Linked DNA regions of Homo sapiens. The protein of the gene in region 2 purifies or fractionates together with the protein of the main gene of each other region. This does not show direct contact. Each region holds a gene or a part of one and is shown on either strand. Other genes may lie near its edges.

Region 1 (4,280 bases), on a different chromosome or scaffold from region 2:
AGTGTGTTGTATTGAAAGGAAAGGGGGAGGTTGTTGGAAAGGGAATTTTAGGAAAACAGTGAAGTTCTGAAATAATCTTTGTGAGAAAGTGAGAGGAAGGAGGGATGTGGTTGCTGCTCAGGAGCAATAAAACAATTTTGAGCAACAGCAGGGCCACAACTGCAGTGGAGACAGTGAAATTATAGAAGCACCATGTTGGTTTGGTATTTTGTTAGTGACTCTTCTTACATATATTCTTCATCTTTCCACCTATTTTCTTTTCACAGGTTCAGGAGTCCTTGCAGGCTATGGGGAGTAGTGCTGATAGTTGTGACAGTGAGACAACAGTTACGTCACTTGGTGAAGACCTTGCCACACCAACAGCACAAGACCAGCCTTATTTTAATGAATCAGAGGAGGAGTCTCTTGTCCCTCTTCAGAAGGGACTAGAGAAGGCAGCAGCAGTTGCAGACAAAAGAAAATCAGGTAGCCAGGATTTCCCTCAGTGCAACACCATTGAGAATACAGGAACTAAACAGTCCACCTGTAGTCCAGGGGATCATATCATTGAAATTACTGAAGTGGAAGAGGATTTGTTTCCAGCAGAGACAGTAGAGCTACTGAGGGAAGCAAGTGCTGAAAGTGATGTGGGTAAAAGCAGTGAAAGTGAATTTACTCAGTATACCACACACCATATTCTGAAATCATTGGCTTCTATTGAAGCTAAATGCAGTGATATGAGCTCTGAAAATACAACTGGGCCTCCCTCTTCCATGGACAGAGTTAATACAGCTTTGCAAAGAGCTCAAATGAAGGTTTGCAGTCTGTCTAATCAAAGGATGGGGCGTAGCCTGCTAAAATCAAAAGATTTGTTAAAACAAAGGTACTTATTTGCAAAAGCTGGCTATCCTCTAAGAAGGTCTCAGTCTTTACCAACCACCTTATTGAGCCCAGTAAGGGTTGTGTCCTCTGTCAATGTTCGATTATCTCCAGGAAAAGAGACCAGATGCAGCCCACCTTCCTTCACCTATAAGTACACACCTGAAGAGGAGCAGGAATTGGAAAAGCGGGTGATGGAACATGATGGTCAGTCTTTAGTTAAATCGACCATTTTCATCTCTCCATCATCTGTGAAGAAAGAAGAAGCCCCCCAGAGTGAGGCGCCGCGGGTGGAGGAATGCCATCATGGAAGGACTCCTACCTGTTCACGGCTTGCTCCACCACCAATGTCTCAGTCTACCTGTTCCCTTCATTCCATCCACTCTGAGTGGCAAGAAAGGCCCCTGTGTGAGCACACAAGAACTCTGAGCACTCACAGTGTTCCCAACATATCAGGGGCTACTTGTAGTGCCTTCGCTTCCCCTTTCGGGTGTCCTTACTCACATAGACATGCCACCTACCCTTACCGAGTGTGCTCTGTGAATCCTCCTTCAGCCATAGAAATGCAGTTGCGAAGAGTATTACATGATATTAGAAACTCACTGCAGAATCTTTCACAGGTATGAGAAAAAGTATGTTATCATTAGCTTTTTTCTTTTACTGCTCTGAGCACTTTTTAATTCACAGAGAAGCTAAGGCACATCAAGTATGAACTACCTCAGCTTTATTTTCTGACATGTCTAAACTTAATCTGCATCTGCCTTCGTTTTCTATCTTCCCTCCTGTTTCAAGGGAGAAGCTGTAACTAACCCTGATCAAAGTCGATTTCTCTGCTCACAAGTCTGTCTCCTTTCCAAGAGGAGAGATTTTTCTCGTTAAGTATCCTCCCATTTTTAGTCTATCATCCACTGTCTTTGTTTTAGTCTAGAATCTTTTGTCATTTCTATTATTAAAAAATCTTCCCTCTTAAAGTTCTTTCTCTCTTTCTCTCTGCTATTTGAACATGTTGACTACCTTTTCCTTTTCCAAGTTTTCTCCCTGTTGGCTTCTGTGGCACCACGTTCTCCTGGTTCTGCTCGTAGCTCTCTGACTAAGCTTTCCCCTTCACCTACTGACCCTCGATGCTGTGCACAGAGTTAGTCTACTTCCACTGGACTCAAAGACTGGAACTACTCCAGACCAGAAAATAACAAATCAGGTAAAGTGTGAATTTGATTTAAAATGCTCTGTATGTCTTGTCACTTTTAAAGTCATTCTCAGATTTGTTAGTAGACTGGAAATAATTTTCCCAAAAAAATTTTGAAAATAAGTACGTTGTCTTCAGTTTTGCCTTTTACATTTTCTTGAACATTCTCTCTGAATGAATCATGTTTAGACAATTGAGGGATTGAAGAAAATGACAATGTAATATAGTCATGAGAGCATTCAACAAAGAGTCAGGAGGCCTAGAATGAATGTAATAGACCTCTTATCATGACATAGTAGACAGGGAGCCACTTGGAAAGTAAAAATCAAAGGTGTAACTTCTCAAGTTATAATAAGATATACCTCCTCTTAACTGTAAGTTTTATCCTCATGACAATTGTCCCCTAACAGTTTTCTGTTTAAACAGAATGTGGGTGTTTCTTATTCCTCCTTACAAAATATAGTTCTGTCTGTGATGGAACTTGCAGCTGTGATTATGTCAAGCTGGGGATTTCCAGGACCCTGTCCACCAGTACCGTGGTGCATCTTTCTAGGCCACCTAGTTCTTCTGCTCCAGCTGTGGTCTCTTTCTCCTGGATATCCCAGCAATAACTCAGCTAATACATCTCCCCATGCCTACCCCACCCTACACTAGTGGACAGGTGCTTTCTATGATGTGGTCTCTGACTATCTCTCCAGCCTCATTCCTTAGCTGTAGGATTGTGCACAGGTCTCTAAACAGTTGTGTGTTCTTAGGTATCTGCACATGGCTGATTTTGTGTTTTGTTTTTTTAAAATAAAAAGATGAAGTTTCTGTTTCTCGCCCACGTGGAGTGCTGGAGACAGTGGTGTAATCATGGCTCCCTGCAGTCTTGAACTCCTGGGCTCAAGTGATCCTCCTGCCTTGGCCTCCCAAAGTACTGGGACTATAAGCCACTTTTTTTTAACCGAGATCACCCAGTCTTTGCCTTTCTTTGCATAATCAAGCCCTATTTACTGTTAAGGCTCAGTTCAAGTAGTGTTACCACTTTTGGGAAAGTTCACGTAATCTGAATTTTTCTGTGTTCATCATAGCACTCCTTCCACAGTATTAGAATTTTTTTAAAATTTCCTTTATTTTTCTTTACACTGTGAGAACACCTGAAGGCTGGGAATACCTTTTATGTTTTTATCTCACTGCCTAAAATAGTGGCATATAGGAAATGCTAAGATGTCTGAGAAAGACGACAATGATTGCTTGCTCTCCAGCAAAGTTAATAATCACTATAATCTCATGATGATATTTGCAATGGCTTCTACATTTTTGCGTTTTGATTTTGTTTTTTTTTAGTTTCGCAAGAGGGAAGTCCTGAAAGAAATAGATGTGAACTATGTTCCTTCGCCTCCTCCTCCCACGTAGATTGACTTATACCTGGAACAGCTAGCAGTACTAGGTGTCATTGGGAACTGATTTCTTTTTTCCTGCTTACAATATGAAGGTTTTTTGGATCCTTTTGTCTTAAAGAGAAAAATATATAGGCCCCAAATTCTGCCTTTTAACCCCTTAAGTGATTTGGAAGTATTCACTTTAACATTGGTTTTAATCCTACTTTTACTTTTTTGAAGTACCCTATGATGAGAGGACCTGATCCTGCTGCTGCTCCATATAGTACTCAGAAATCATCTGTTCTACCTCTTTATGAAGTAAGTTCTTTCTTACATCTTTGTGTTCCAAAATAATTTGTAGAATTTAGAAGTGTAATTTTGTTATATTGCATTCTAGAATACTTTTCAGGAGCTCCAGGTAATGAGGCGGAGCCTGAATTTGTTTAGAACACAAATGATGGATTTAGAATTGGCAATGCTGCGTCAGCAAACCATGGTTTATCATCATATGACTGAGGAGGAGAGGTAAAAGTTCATTTTGTCTTAGCACACCTCAAAAAGCTTTTCATTCAAAGTCTTCTCAACTTATATTTTTTAAAATTAGGTTTTGATTCTACTGCTGTGTACCTTGTATCTGTTTTGTGAACCAGTGTAGATAAGATTAGTCATAGATAGTGTTTTACTAAGTAAACTTGTATGCCTTCAATATCCTAAGGGTAGTGGTAACCTGCTTTCCCGTGTTTGAGATATTTGTGAGAGGATAGGGGAAGAAAGACTAATGTCCTTGTGGATACACCTATTGTAGTTGATATTGTACTAATTTCTAGAACCTGAGATTTCCATGCCTTCTGTTAGCATATAGTAGTTGTTGA
Region 2 (5,508 bases):
TAGAGCCACAAACTCGTTCTCTGCTGTGGCTCGAAGTGCTACTTCTTCTTCATACCTGAGGTGAGCAGGGAGAACAGGACCTTGTCTGAACAGCTCTTGATCTTGGCCATGAGCATATATGCAAAGGAGTCTCTTTCCTAGACCTCCCCCTGCTTGTCTCCTGCCCCCAAGTGAAATGGGTGGGGCTCTGCAGGAACCAGGCTGCTGGCCTGGGTACTACTGGGATGCACTGGAGAAATGAAGTGCCTACTCCCCTGTTTTTTTTTGTTTTTGTTTTTGAGATGGAGTCTCGCTCTGTCGCCCAGGTTGGAGCACAGTGGCGCGGTCTCGGCTCACTGCAAGCTCCGCCTCCCAGGTTCATGCCATTCTCCCCTCTCAGCCTCCCGAGTAGCTGGGACTACAGGTGCCCACCACCACGCCTGGCTAATTCACTCCCCTGTTTTGGTGGAGGTTGGGAGAGCAGGATCTGGAAGCTGAGTGTGTGAATGTGTGTGGTTGGGGAGTGGGAGGTGCTGTTTTTCTCGCCTAGGTCTCCATCTTTTCTTCCTTCGAGCCCTCCCCTGCCCCCACTCAGCTGCAGGTGGTGGGATCCTCGCTCTGTCTCTCCCCTCCTGGCCTGAGCTGTGGGAGGCAGCTCAGAGACAGGGAGGGAGGGGTATGCTGGGCCTGGGGAGTCCATGGAGAGAATGTTACTGAAGGAAGCTGGCCACCCCTCAAAAGCAGATTCCTTCTGAGGATCCAGTGCGTATTCTTCATACCATATATCACACTTTGTAGCTGAAGGGCTAGATCTGTGGCTCTGTCATGACTGCCTTCCAGCAGACTGCAGGCTCCACAAGAACCCGCACTGTGTGGCTTGCGTGGCCCTGTGTCACTATCACCAGCACAGCGTGCTGCATGTGGTAGGTGATCAGATAGTGTTAGCTGAGTGAGAGAGCAAACTTAGGAAGACACATGTCCAGGACTTTGAGATCTGGTCTCAAAGGGACCCAGGAATACAAGTTTTTGTGAAAAATGGATGGAGAAAGGGAGAGAGCATTGTTTCCCTGATCTGCTGGTGGAAAGACAAGCTGAGCCTCCATCCCCCACACCCAAGGGACCCCTGTGTCTCAAACAGGGGGTACAGGTTCTTCTCCACTCTCAGGCAGAGATGCCAGCTGCAGACTGGATACTCCTCCGGGCTCAGGGAGCTGCCACCATGCTATTTCCTGTGCCCAGAACCCCTCCTGCCCACACTCACTTCTTCTTGTAGCCCTCCAGCACCTCCTGCACGTGGTTGAGCTCTGAGGCCAGCCTCCCACTGTCAGCCTCCACGCACTCGGCCTCCCGCCGCAGAGTCTCGATGTAGCCAGCAAACAGGGGCTCCAGGTTACTCTGGCAGCACTCGCGGTTTTGGTAGAACTGCAGCTTTGTCTCCAGCAGCTTGTTCTGCTGCTCCAGGAAGCGCACCTGCCACCCAGAGGCAGAGCCTAAGAACCTCTTCTTGCAGCATCAGAGGACAAAGAGGGGTTCCCAGCACGAGGGCCTGAAAGCCCCCAACTCTCTGACCCAGAGTCTTCCCTGGAAGGCGTTATGTCATCTCTCTCAAAAATGCCACCAGGGCTTAACCAGTTCACCACCTGGAAGTTCTTCCTGGGAGTTAATCTCTTCTAAGTCAGTTTACCTGGTGTCATGGAAAATGCTTGAAGAGTCCAGATTCTGCTGCCACTTGTTAACATTGTGCCCTTGGATAAAGCACTCACCTCCTCTGTAGAGTGGCGAGGTTAAAGCTCACCTTACTATGAGGATTAAAAGAACCCTTTAACAGAAAGGCACCCCACACTGAACAGCTACTGCTGTTCAATCACACCAAGCCAGGTGGACCTTTTTAGAAAGGCAAACTGTAAAAGTTGAAAAATAAAGCATGTGCCAATTATTCAAACCCTACAACAACAATGCAATTAGAATAATAGTCACCTGCAATATGAGAGTAGGAATGTCCTGTGCTCCAACCCCCTTATTTTACTGATGAGGCCAAGGAGGTTCCCTGACTGCCTGAGAGCTCACAGTGGCAGAGAAGAGCTCAAACTCCGATCTTCTGCGCTGCAGGGGGTGTCTTCTCTCCCTTTGACAATTATAGGAACATCCCTCTCCCAGCGATGAGGTTGGCCCACTACTCCACTCAGCTTCTTTTGTCTAATAACTTGGCCACACCCTTGGTAGGTCCTATCTTATGCTATCCTTGGTCTCTCATGCTATTAGAAATTCCACATTTTTTTTTCCCGATCCTTTCTGGTGGGCATCTCTCTAGTGTGACTCCTCTCTTGAGGTTTTGGCTCTGGAGGGCTCTTTCCAACCCCAGAACATGTTCCTAGTCAGAGCCTTTTCTCCCAGTCTCTCACATCACTGCCACATGGTGGTTGCCTGGATTCAGTGGAGAAGGTGGCTGCAAACTCTAGTTGGACACTGACTACACAGATGGTTTCAACCAAACCCAGACTGTGCACTGCCTGCCTCCCCATAAAGCCTGTGAGGATGGGGACCATGACTCTTGCTCACCCCTGGATCCTGAGCCCCAGGAACAGTGGCTTGGACAAAATACTCTAGACCCTGCTCAGTGGCCAAATCACTGTGTGGTATAGAAAGAGTTCTGTGCCATCCACGAGACCCACTTCCAGACAGTTTTCCAGCACCACACTTATTAGCCCTGCCTTGATGGAGACAGCATCTCCTTGGCATTTAAGCAGTTATTTGGCTTCAAATGCCCTGAGCGCCCACACAGTGGTCCTTTGCTCACTAGGTGATATTATCACTCAGTGTGGAAGGCTCTGCCCCTCGTTCTGCTTTTGTGTTTTCAGTTAATCTCCCCCATCAGTCTGGTAGCTCCCGGTCCCATTTTTGTCTTTCTGTCTGTGTCCTAGAAGTATGACTACCTTTCCCTTTGGCCTGGGAACTTCTGTGGGCAAGTTCTTGCCTTTGACTTCCCTGTCAGTGCCCAGCCTGAGTTCTGAACATGAGTAGGGGTTCAGGAAGGGTGTGATCCAGGACGACACCCACCTTGTCGATGAAGGCCGCGAATCTGCTGTTGAGGGACTTGATCTGCTCCTTCTCCTCCTGCTTCACGCACTGCGCGTTGGGGTCTATCTCCAGGTTGAGGGGCGTGAGGAGGCTCTCGTTGACCGACACGGTGGTGATGCATGGGGGGCTGGGTCCGCACACGCCCCCGGAGCGGTAGCCGAAGCTGCGTCCGCAGGAGCCGGCGCGGAAGCCCCCGCACACGCTGTGGCTGCCAAAGCCCCCGGTGAGGCCGCGGTAGCAGGAGATGCCGCGGTAGGGGGCGGCGGTGATGCAGCAGCGGCTTGGCCGGGGCCCGCAGGCAGAGACACAGCTGAAGTTTCCAGGGCGGAACCCACAGCCTATGGAGTTGAAGCCACAGGTCATGACGGAGGTTAGGAGGTGTCTGAACAGTGGAGTAGATGGCAGAGGATGGAACCAAGGGCCTGTGCTCCCTGGCTGATGGCAGGCCCTTTTATGTGCCAGGGGCAGCTGGTGTTAAAAGAGGGAGCAAAGAGACAATAGCTGAATTTTATTGGCTTGGCATCACCCTGGCCTCTTAAGCTAGAACCCTGCTTGCCTCTTCAGTGTGGCTGCATCAACAATCCCTGGCCACGGGCCCTGTTTCATCTTCAAAGCCCTTTATAAGCTTCCTCCTTGCTCCTGCCCCTCCCACTGGCACTGCTGTGGAGCGGGGAGAGGGGTTCCTGAAAGCATTAGTTGCATTCTGCGGTCCAAGCGAGGGGAATGGGTGCAGTGACCTGGGGTAAAGCCTGCTCTCTGAACCCTGTTCTGAAAGGGGCAGAGCTAGGCTATGGGCCCTGGACCCATGGCCAAGCCCTGGGGTGGAGTGGCTGGCCTGTCCCAAGGAGGGGGCTGCCTCTGAGACAACCTCTTGCTGTAGGCTTTCCTGTCTTTTTCTCAAAGGCGGGTTCCTTTCCTCATTGTCAAGATTGGCCGCTCCTATCCTATTCCTGCTCAGAGCCTGGTCAAGGATGGGAGTGGGGGTAGAGATTTGGGGTGGGAGGAGGGCATGTTCTTTGCACTTTGGGTATTCCTAGTGCAGGGACACCATCTGGGACATGGAAGAAACTGATTCAGAGAGTTCAGGACAGTGCCAGGGCTATGCTTCAGAGTTCCAGGTGTCATTGCTGATGGGATCAGGAGCGGGGAGTGTGGAATACCTCAGAGCTCCAGGGACTCATGGAGGAGAGTGGGGACCTGGGCTTGAGGAGGATTGGGGTGGGGTAGTACAGGATTGAGAGATGACCAGAAAAGAGTCTGGCTCTGATTTGCAGACTAGACTATGTGTATTCATTTATTCATTTATTCATTTATTCATTTATTCAGGAAATACTTATTTGGTGCCCACCAACTATGCACTAGCCACTGTGCTAGGTTCTGGAAATCCTACAGAGACCTGGGGTGTTTGGAGGTAGCATGCATGTGGGGGAGCCAACATTTGGCTAGGGGGAAAGATGAGAAGCCACAGATGGGGGGAAGGCCCTCACAATGTCCAGGCTGATTGGTGTTCTTTAGGTTCCCAGCAGGGAAGCTCAGTGATGGGGTCTTGGGGTGTATGTACTCACCAGGAAGGAGGGAAGGTGCGGGAGGTGAGGGACATCAGCAGGGTCCTTAAATGAGATCACTCTCTCACCTCAGAGAACACACTGGGTGAGAGAAGGGTGCTAGCTCATGTGGCTGTTCCTAAAGCCAAGCTCTCTTACTTTGGGCCCTTGTTCCTTTGGGTTAGGACAGGCAATGGCTTTGATGGATGGACAGTCGGACCGAGCCAGGAGGTTTGCCTTAACCCGAGGACCTGAGCCCATCAACCCTTCCAAACACACATCTCTGGACTGCTTTCGTCAGGAGAGGATGAGGAGGACTCCACTGATGGACCTGTGTCCTGACCCAGCCACAACCCAACACTGACCCACTCTGGGCTAATAGTAACCCTCCTGTGACTCTCATCTTTTGCCCTTCCCACTCCCGCTCAGGATGAGTGGGCCAGTTATATCCCAGAGTGGGGATCTGGGGATGATGGAAGAGGGGCCCATCTTCTGTGGGCCTGAGGGAGGGCAGGCGATGGTGCTGTTGAAATCTCTTAGGGAGCTGGACATCTGCCATGGATCCAAAAAAAGGACTCTCCTAGCCTCTCTTCTTGGGTCCTGTGGACAGGCTTCCAGAGTCTTGTGTCTGGGGCAGGAACTCTGGGGGTGTGGGCTGTGTGATAGGGGATCCTGGTGTGAAAGACACACCAGGGAGGCACAGCCTGAGGGTACCTGGGGGGCCTGGGGGTGGCTGACTGCAGCTGAGTGGCTAGTGGGATTTTGGGAGCATCTTTGAGGGAGGCTGGGCTGGCTGGTGCTGTCATGTTCAGTCTTGGTTGGGTCAAACATCTGCTAGACAGCCAAGAAAGACCAGGCTCTTCACCCACCCACACTGGAACCAGTGAGCACCTGGAATGCTCTCCAC
Region 3 (5,039 bases), on a different chromosome or scaffold from region 2:
GCTTTTGGCATCTTCGTTATGAAATCTTTGCCCATTCCTATGTCTAGAATGATATTGCCTAGGTCGTCTTCCAGGATTTTTATAGTTTTAGGTTTTATACTTAAGTTCTTAATCCATTTTTACTTAATTTTTGTATAAGAAGTGATCCAGTTTCAATCTTTTGCATAAGCTAGCCAGTTATCCTGGGACCATTTATTGAATAGGGAATACTTTCTATATTGCTTGCTTTTGTTGAGTTTGTTGACGATCAGATGGTAATAGGTGTGAGGTTTGCAGCATTATTTCTGGACGGTGTATTCTATTTCATTGGTCCATGTGACTGTTTTGGTACCAGTACAATGCTTTTTTGGTTACCATGGCCTCATATTATAGTTTGAAGTCAGGTAATATGATGCCTCTGGCTTCATTCTTTTTGCTTAGGATTGCCTTGGCTATTCGGGCTCTTTTTTGGTTCCATATGAATTTTAAAGTAGTTTTTTTTTCTAATTCCACGAAGAGTGTCATTGGTAGTTTAATAGGAATATCATTGAATCTATAAACTGCAGTTTGGCCTTTTGACAACATTGCTTCTTCCTGTTCACGAGCATGGAATGTTTTTCCATTTGTTTTTGTCATCTCTGATTTCTTTAAGCAGTGTTTTGTAGTTGTCATAGTAGAGACTTTTCTCCTCCCTAGTTACCTGCATTCCTAGGTATTTTATTGTTTCTGTGGCAATTGTGAATGGGATTGTGTTTCTGATTTGGCTCTGACCTTGAAGGTTGCTGGTGTATAGAAATGCTCCGGGTTTTTGTACATTAATTTTGTATCCGGAAACTTTCCTGAAGTAGTTTATGAGATCAAGGATCTTTTTGGCAGAGAATCTGGGATTTTCTAGGTATAGAATCATATTGTTTGCGAACAGAGATTGTTTGACTTCTATGAAAAACATAGTGAAGTGAAAGCAAACATCTGTCCAGAAGGGAATAGAACAATAAAAATGCCCAATAATAAATTTAATTTGAATGTGAAGAACTAATATGAAGCAAATAACACAGTCATTGTGAGGGATACATAAAAAGACTTGAGGAAATGAGGAGTGGCTTTTTCTTGGATAGAGAAATTCTAAAATAGAAAGATAGATATTGTCCCTAAGTTAAGATGTAATTTAAAAATAATACCTAGTGTCTCACCTGGAATATTTTAGCACCTGATCAAATGATTCTGAAGTTCATCTGAAAGACAAATGTGTCAGAGTAGACAGAAAAGGAAAAAGCAATGAGGGAGGGCAAGCATTATTTCGCATTACAAATATAATTAAGCTACAGCAATTAAAATAGTATACTAGTGGTACAGGTACAAACGACTCAATGGAAGAAAATTAAAATAAGAGAGTTACATACAAAATTGAGTGGGGATGTAGGTGATGATAAAAGAGCCACTTCAAAACAGTGGGTGAAACAGGGATTCAACAAATGATGTAGAGTCCCTACCACTTAATTTTGTTCAGATGGATCAATTTTTTTTTTGTTTGTTTGTTTTGTTTTTTTTTTTTTTTTGAGATGAGGTCTCACTTTGTTGCCCAGGCTGGAGTGCAGTGGCACGATCTCGGCTCACTGCAACTTCCACCTCCCGGGTTCAAGCAATTATCCAGCCTCAGCCTCCCGAGTAGCTGAGACTACAGGCGCGTGCCACTATGCCCGGCTAATTTTTTGAATTTTTAGTAGAGATGGGGTTTCACCATGTTAGCCAGGATGATCTCGATCTACTGACCTCGTGATCTGCCCGCTTGGGCCTCCCAAAGGGCTGGGATTACAGGCGTGAGCCACTGCGCCTGGCCCGGATCAATGATTTTGAATGTACAATCATGCAACAAAAACTATGAATGTCTTATCATATTGGAGTGGGTAAGATCATTGCAAGCATGACAGCAGACTCGCGAAGGCACAAGAAAATGATTTATGAAAGCAGATATAAAATGGGTATTAACATATATAATATTTATTTCTATGATGGCGAATTTGTCCGAAACACATTGTTTTCTTAGAGTAACCTGGGCCTCATATTCTCCAACGCCATTGGAAGTGAAAGGAAGGTTGGGCGGGGGAAAAAGAAAAGTGCTTTGTAAGTTCATTTTCGTTGTCAGAAGAGCTTGTGGTTTAGGTTCTCCACAGAGGCAGGAAACCTTCAGTCACGTGGCAAATACCCCACTGAGTGCGCATGCTGCACAGATCTGTTGCTGCGCATGCGCCTTTCTGCCCACCTTCTGTCTAGGCAGAGCTCTGCAAGGAGAGGTTGTGTCTTCGTTCTTTCCGCCATCTTCGTTCTTTCCAACATCTTCGTTCTTTCTCACTGACCGAGACTCAGCCGGTAGGTCTGCAGAGTGGTCTTCCTGGTAATTTAGTTGTGAGTGAATGTGTGGAGGAGCCAGCGGGCTTAGGACAGGTCCCGTGGCACAGTCCGTGGCTTTGAGGGAAAAGGGCCTCGCGGTGGTCCTCCGCCTTCCCCCAGGTCCTGATGCAGGCGCCATGGGCCGGTAATCGTGGCTGGGCTGGAACGAGGGAGGAAGGTAGGCCGTGGAGGGGGTAGATCGCCTGAAGATGGTGCGAGTCCTGGGGGTGGGTGCTGTTAGAGGTGTCTGAGTCCCGAAAACGCCTGGAACTCTCTGAGGGAGGACAGTTTCTGGACTCTTCGTTAGGGATGCGAGAAGGGATGGTGTGGGTGGTAAGGAAGGGGCCAGGAAACTGGGAACGCTGTGGGCTGGTGACTACGGCCCCGAGGTCTGTAGAGTGCCTGGCAGAGGTGTCCAGTGAGGAACATAACCTTAACTCTGTGTCGCAACTTCTCATCTCAGCCATGGACCTCATGGAAAGGAATGGTTGAGGCTGTGCATTCCAACAAAACTTGATTTTTCGGGGAGTGGGGAGGAGGTGGTGGTGGCCCTAGTATATCAGAGTGGGAGGAAAGCAGCAGTCACTTCAGTTTCAATTTTCTGCCCGTTTTTTTCCTAAATGTGTAAATGATGGAGAGTCTAATTGTGAAGCCAAAACTCAGAAAAGTCCTCTGTCTTTTGCTATGGCGTTAAGGTGTTTTCTGTGCCTCTTCGACTATGATACAAACAAATCTGTCCTTAGTTTGATTGGAAAGCATGCGTACTTATCAATGCTCTGTGACTTAGTTTGAAAATATTTTCAAAATTAAAAAAGTACAAATCACCATTTTGCCATGGAATGTTCATATATATAGCTAAGTTCTTACACACTTTTTCCAAATAACAATATTTTGTTTTCAGTGAGAGATATGAGTGAGCATGTAACAAGATCCCAATCCTCAGAAAGAGGAAATGACCAAGAGTCTTCCCAGCCAGTTGGACCTGTGATTGTGAGTCCTTTAGCATTTGATGTTTTCTATTAACACATTTTATTTTAAAAAATATTTTTGAGCGAGTGTACATGCACTGATACAGGTGTTCCATGCTAATAAAAAATGATGATGGCATCTCATGAAGGCAACTTTGGTTCAGGAATATTATATTCTGGTGTTGCCTTATGGATATGGATATTTTACTCTCTCTCTATATATATATCTATTGGAAAATGTCTTTAGATTTATGATTCGATGCACATATGCATTTGTGTGTTTATATTATTGACTTTTTATTCGCACACACACTTACACCCTTAGGTCCAGCAGCCCACTGAGGAAAAACGTCAAGAAGAGGAACCACCAACTGATAATCAGGGTATTGCACCTAGTGGGGAGATCAAAAATGAAGGAGCACCTGCTGTTCAAGGTGAAGGGAGAGTGGAGAATAATGCTTATGGGTGGTGGAGGTCTATTTATGCATTATATTTTGTGACATACCAGTAACAGGAGGACAGAAAACATTAGGAAGGAATCTTAAACATTTCTTACTGCTGCTGTGCGGAGGGGTGGGACAAGGACACATAAAAAGCCACAAACTTTCCTACCATTTTGACGGAGGCTTTTTATTGATTGGGTATTTGCATGGTTGCCGTAAACCTTTGAGTGTTTTCCAGAGTTCCTGTATGGTTTGTTCAGCTATTTTCTGTTTTTTGTTTTGTTTTGTTTTGTTTTATGCTTCTGTGGAAGAATGGCAGCTTGCAGCTTCCTAGTCTGCCATCTGCGGACATCTCTCATGTATTTTTATAAGATACTTTTTAACACATTTATTAATGCTTCCTCATGCTGTGTAATATACTAAGCGCCGGAGATGTCAGTGCCAAATTTTTGCCTAAAGCTCATAGTCTAGTCAGACTGACTCAAACAAATCACTGATTTAATGTGATAAGAATAAGAACAAATGAGTACAAAAGGAACAAGTAAGTTGTCTAGGGCCAGCCTTGGGAAAGGAAAGGGCAATGTTTGAACATTTCTGCTTTCCTGCTTTTCTGGCAACAGACTTCTGAAATAATTAGCCTACAGGTTTTTATTTCACAATGATGAGGGAATAAATATTATTACCTCGTTCATAGTTCATATTTTAATTCGTAAATTGACGACTTTTTATCTTTAAGGGACTGATGTGGAAGCTTTTCAACAGGAACTGGCTCTGCTTAAGATAGAGGATGCACCTGGAGATGGTCCTGATGTCAGGGAGGGGACTCTGCCCACTTTTGATCCCACTAAAGTGCTGGAAGCAGGTATGTTATTCAATAAGATGCAAATTATAGGGTTTCTATTTTCACAATATTGTATTTTGTGTGACACAGAGGTAAAATTACTGCTACTTTAATATCATACTTCACATCTAAAGATTCTTTGAAGGTAGTTCAGACCCCAAATGGCTGCCTTACACACTATCAGAGATAGAAGGCCAGGTGTGGTGGCTCATGCTGTTAATTCCAGCACTTTGGGAAGCCGAGGCAGAAAGACCACTTGAGGCCAGAACTTCAAGAGATAGAATAAATTGGGTCAAAGCTAATTGAGTTACGATATGAAAGATATGAAACATGCTAAGAGAGTAGATTTTGAGTGTCTTCACAGCTATATGAAATAATGCATATATTAATTAGGTTGAGCCGTTTTACAATGTATGTATA
Region 4 (4,280 bases), on a different chromosome or scaffold from region 2:
ACAGGCTGGTCCAACTCCTGTCTCTTAAAAGAAAAAAAACTGTCCCTGTCTATATATAGATATGTAGATATATGTCTATTTGTGTGTGTGTGTGTGTGTATCTAGATAGATAGATAGATAGATAGATAGATAGATAGATAGATAGATAGATATAATGGAGATAAAACTTTGAAATATTACTACTATGTAGTGCTTAGGTACATTTACAAATGTATGTATCTAAAAGCATGGTATTTATAAAGGACTAGGCTGGTATATTAGGTTGTTTTTGGATTGCTATAAATAAACACCTGAGACTGGGTAATTTATGAAGAGAAGAGGTTTTTTTGTATGTTTGTTTGTTTGTTTGTTTGTTTTGAGACAGAGTCTTGCTCTGTCACCCAGGCTGGAGTGTGGATTGATCTCGGCTCACTGCAACGTCTACCTCCTGGGTTCAAGTGATTCTCCTGCCTCAGCCTCCCAAGTAGCTGGGACTACAGGCCATGCCCAGCTAATTTTTTGTATTTTTAGTAGAGACAGGGTTTCACCGTTAGCCAGGATGGTCTCAGTCTCCTGACCTCGTGATCCGCCCTCCTCGGCCTCCCAAAATGTTGGGATTACAGGCGTGAGCCACCGCACCCGGTTGAAGAAAAGAGGTTTACTTGGCTCACGGTTCTGCAGACTGTACAAGCATGGCACTGGCATCTGCTTAGCTTCTGGGAGGCCTCAGGGAGCTTTTGCTCACTGCAGCAAGCACGTTACATGGTGAAGGCAGGGGCCAAGGGTGGGGAAGGTTAGTGCCACACACTTATAAATGACCTGTTCTCATGAGAACCCACTCACTGTGGTAAGGACAGCACCAGGCCATGAGGGATCCACCCCCATGACCCAAACAACTCCCGCCAGGTCCCACTTCCAACACTGGGGAGTGCGTTGCAACATGAGATTTGGGCGGAGACAAATATCCAGACTCTAGCAGCGGGAAACTCCAAACTCATCCTAGTGATAGGAGGCAGAGAATGATATTGGGGGTTGGGGGTGGGGAGATAAAGATAAATTCCCTTTATCTGTTGAATTTTATTTCTTGAGAAATAAATTTGCTCTTCAAGTGTAACAGTTATTGAGTGGTGAGAATATTTTTAATATCTTCTGCTGACTTTTAAATGTCTTCTTTCAAAAAAGTGAGGAGAGACTGGATGGATATAAATAAGTCAGAATCCTGGTTACCCCTGGACTTGGTGGGGTGGGGGATGCAGCTGGGGGTTGGTCTGAGGCACCCTGAATGTGTGTCATCGGATTCCCTCGTTTCAGGTTCCATCTCTGCTTTGACTACTTCATGCCTCAGCAAAGAAGCGAGGCCAGGAAGTAGATTTTGCAAGAGAGAATGAATTCTTTGTGAAGTTAGAATTTTTCGTTACAGATCCTTTATTTAATATTAAACATACGTCTGAACTACATAAAGACTCATGATTTTTATGGTTTAAGGATCTTTGATATCAGCATCTCTGCTTTCCTTTGTTTGTTATAGATGGCTGTATGATACCAGTTACACCCAGAAAAGAAGAAATTATGAAAATAGTGGGGACTTGGGATTCACTAGAATGAAATATAGTGACAGTAGTCAAGTTTTCATATTAAATGGTTTGGCTTTTTTTAAAAAACTGGGATATAATTTACATACAATAAAATTTACCTTTTAAACTGTACAGTTCTGTACTTTAGTCAAATGCCTGCAGTTGTGTAATTACTACCAGATCACAATCAAGATATCACCAGCCTTTTTGGCACCAGGGACTGGTTTCATGGAAGACAATTTTTCCATGGACCTGGGAGGATGGTTCGGGATGATTCAAGCATACTCCATTTATTGTGCATTTTATTTCTATGATTGTGTTGTAATATATAATGAAATAATTATAACTCACCATAATGTAGAATCAGTGGGAGCCCTAAGCCTGTTTTCCTGCAACTAGATGGTCCCATCTGGGGGTGATGGGAGGCAGTGAGAGATCATCAGGCCTTAGATTCTCATAAGGAGTGCACAGCCCAGATCCCTCGCATGTGCAGTTCACAATAGGGTTCACGCTTCTATGAGAATCTAATTCTGCCAACAGGAGGCTGAGCTCAGGCAGTGATGCTAGTGATGGGCAGCAGCTGTAAACACAGATCAAGCTTCCCTCACTTGCTTGCCCACTCCTCACCTCCTGCTGTGTGGCCCAGTTTCTAATCTGTGGCTCGGGGGTTGGGGACCCTTGCTGTAGATGGAACCGTACATGATGTAGCCTTTTGAGTCTGCCTTTTTTCACTTAGTGTAATACATTCAAGATTCAGCCATGTTTGTTTTTCCTTTGAACACTGTTCTATTGTGTGGCTGTGCTAGTTTGCTCATCTATGACCAGTTGATGGGCATTGAGTTGTTTCTAGTTTTAGCAGTTAGGAATCAAGCTGCCATAAACATTTACATACAGGTTTTTGTGAGAACATAAGTTTTCATTAATCTTGGGTAGAAAGCTAAGAGTGAGATTGCTGGGTTGTGTGGTTAAGTGCACGCTCACCTTTATAAGAAAACTGCTCAACTGTTTTCCAAAGTGCCTGTACCATTGTGCTTTCCCACCAGCAAAGTGTGAAAGTTCCAGCTGCCCCACACTTCAGGTTAACTTTAATTTTTATTTATAAGTATTGTCACCAAGTGGATATTCTTTTCAAAAATAAGTTATTGATAAACAGACTTCCAAAATTTAGTATTATAATTTGGATATAGAAATGGTATTTTTCCAACCAAACACTGGGGAATTTAAAAAGTGAATTTATGTTAAACTGTATTAAGACATGCATTTAACAAAAGAGATATTTTGAAAGTCATAAAATCACAGGCAATTTGATCTGTCTTGGTGTGTGTTGTCATCATTCTTCCAAAATCTAAAAAGTGTATGTCTGGTAAATGTGATTCTTTTCAAAATCTTATTTGCTTTTTAGTTTAATAGACTGAGTGTTCTCATGAATTTATTTCTCCCAGAATCTGGTCAACCTGTAGTTCCGTTGGACAGACAGTTTCTCATCCATGAACTAAATGCATTTGAAGAATCAAAGGATAATACAATGTAAGACATTTTTTTAAAGAAGTTTCCACATATTGTATTGAGTCATAATTGCACCATGGTGGTTTTACTTCATTTTAATTCAAGTATTTATTCAGATCTAGTGTGTGTCAAGCATTGTCCTAAATCCAGGGTGTGCAGCAGTGAATAAGTCAGATGAGATCTGTGTTTGCTGAAGCTACAATTACATGGCTTCAGAGTGACTCAGCATCTTCTTTCTGGAGTTAGCTCCTTTTGACTTCTTGATCCTTTGTCCTTCTAAGGCTTTGTTTGTTTTTTAATTTATAATTTCAACTTTTATTTGTATTTTCAAATTATTTTTGTAGAGGCAAGGCCTCGCTTTTTTGCCCAGGCTGGTCTCGAACTCCTGACCTCAAGTGATCTTCCTGCCTTGGCCTCCCAAAGTGCTAGGGTTGCAGGTGTGAGCCCTCCATGCCTGGCCTCTGAGACTTTGCCTTGTCAGTTGTTTTCTTCATATTTAACTCTTCCTTCACTCCAACTTAGGAATGTACTCAGATCTCTCCTCTCCTAAAACAAAAACAAAAACAAAAACAAAAACTATGAACTTCCAACCCCAAGCTTCTGCTCGAATACCTTTTTCTACCAAGATTACTGAATCAGCCCACTGCTTTCGTTACTATTACTCTGTCCTTTGCCCTCTGTGTACCTCCTCTCACCAACTATGCTCTTGAAAAGGAGGATGACCACTTTCTAGTTTTCTTAGTTTTTTTCTATTTCAGTGTTTCTTAAACTTTTTCTGGAGAGTCCCTGTATAGCCAAAAAAAAAAAAAAAAGTACATAGGAGACCTGAGAACATAGCTTAAAGCAGCCTTTTTTTAAATCTAGAACTTTCTTTGAAGCCTTACGTTTTCTCATCCTAAAAGTTCTTAAGGCCAAGTGAGGTATCTCGTGCCTGTAATGCCAGCACTTTGGAAGGCTGAAGTGGAAGGATCACTTGAGCTCAGGAGTTCAAGACTAGCCTGGACAACATGGGGAAACCCCATCTCTAGCCAGACGTGGTGGCTCATGCCTGTAGTCCCAGCACTTCAGAGGCTGAGGCAAGTGGATCACCTGAGGTCAGGAGTTTGAGACCAGCCTGGTCAACATGGCGAAACCCCATCTCTACTAAAAATAACAAAAAGATTAGCAAGGCATGGTGGCGTGTGCCTGTAGTCCCAGCTGCTAGGGAGGCTCAGGCATGAG

Evidence for each region. Proteins that work in one complex are often made in the same cells at the same time.
Region 1: the proteins of KRT83 (region 2) and ITPRID2 purify together in Homo sapiens (affinity purification with mass spectrometry; one large-scale study listed by BioGRID and IntAct). This does not show direct contact.
Region 3: the proteins of KRT83 (region 2) and PAGE5 purify together in Homo sapiens (affinity purification with mass spectrometry; one large-scale study listed by BioGRID and IntAct). This does not show direct contact.
Region 4: the proteins of KRT83 (region 2) and CEP20 purify together in Homo sapiens (affinity purification with mass spectrometry; one large-scale study listed by BioGRID and IntAct). This does not show direct contact.

What each region holds. Positions count from the first base shown.
Region 1 is NC_000002.12:181,914,950-181,919,229, forward strand, and holds part of ITPRID2 (protein ITPRID2), read left to right. Parts: intron 1-266; coding exon 267-1,478; exon of another isoform or gene 1,479-1,650; coding exon of another isoform or gene 1,651-1,737; exon of another isoform or gene 1,738-1,888; coding exon of another isoform or gene 1,889-1,948; exon of another isoform or gene 1,949-2,056; intron 2,057-3,373; exon of another isoform or gene 3,374-3,521; intron 3,522-3,648; coding exon 3,649-3,726; intron 3,727-3,805; coding exon 3,806-3,933; intron 3,934-4,280.
Region 2 is NC_000012.12:52,317,916-52,323,423, forward strand, and holds the start of KRT83 (keratin, type II cuticular Hb3), read right to left. Parts: upstream 3,484-5,508; 5' UTR 3,421-3,483; coding exon 3,037-3,420; intron 1,450-3,036; coding exon 1,241-1,449; intron 56-1,240; coding exon 1-55.
Region 3 is NC_000023.11:55,218,107-55,223,145, forward strand, and holds the start of PAGE5 (P antigen family member 5), read left to right. Parts: upstream 1-2,239; 5' UTR 2,240-2,346; exon of another isoform or gene 2,347-2,493; coding exon of another isoform or gene 2,494-2,545; intron 2,546-3,268; coding exon of another isoform or gene 3,269-3,276; coding exon 3,277-3,357; intron 3,358-3,660; coding exon 3,661-3,769; intron 3,770-4,514; coding exon 4,515-4,640; intron 4,641-5,039.
Region 4 is NC_000016.10:15,878,604-15,882,883, reverse strand, and holds part of CEP20 (centrosomal protein 20), read left to right. Parts: intron 1-2,995; coding exon 2,996-3,080; intron 3,081-4,280. UniProt on the Homo sapiens protein: Involved in the biogenesis of cilia. Required for the recruitment of PLK1 to centrosomes and S phase progression.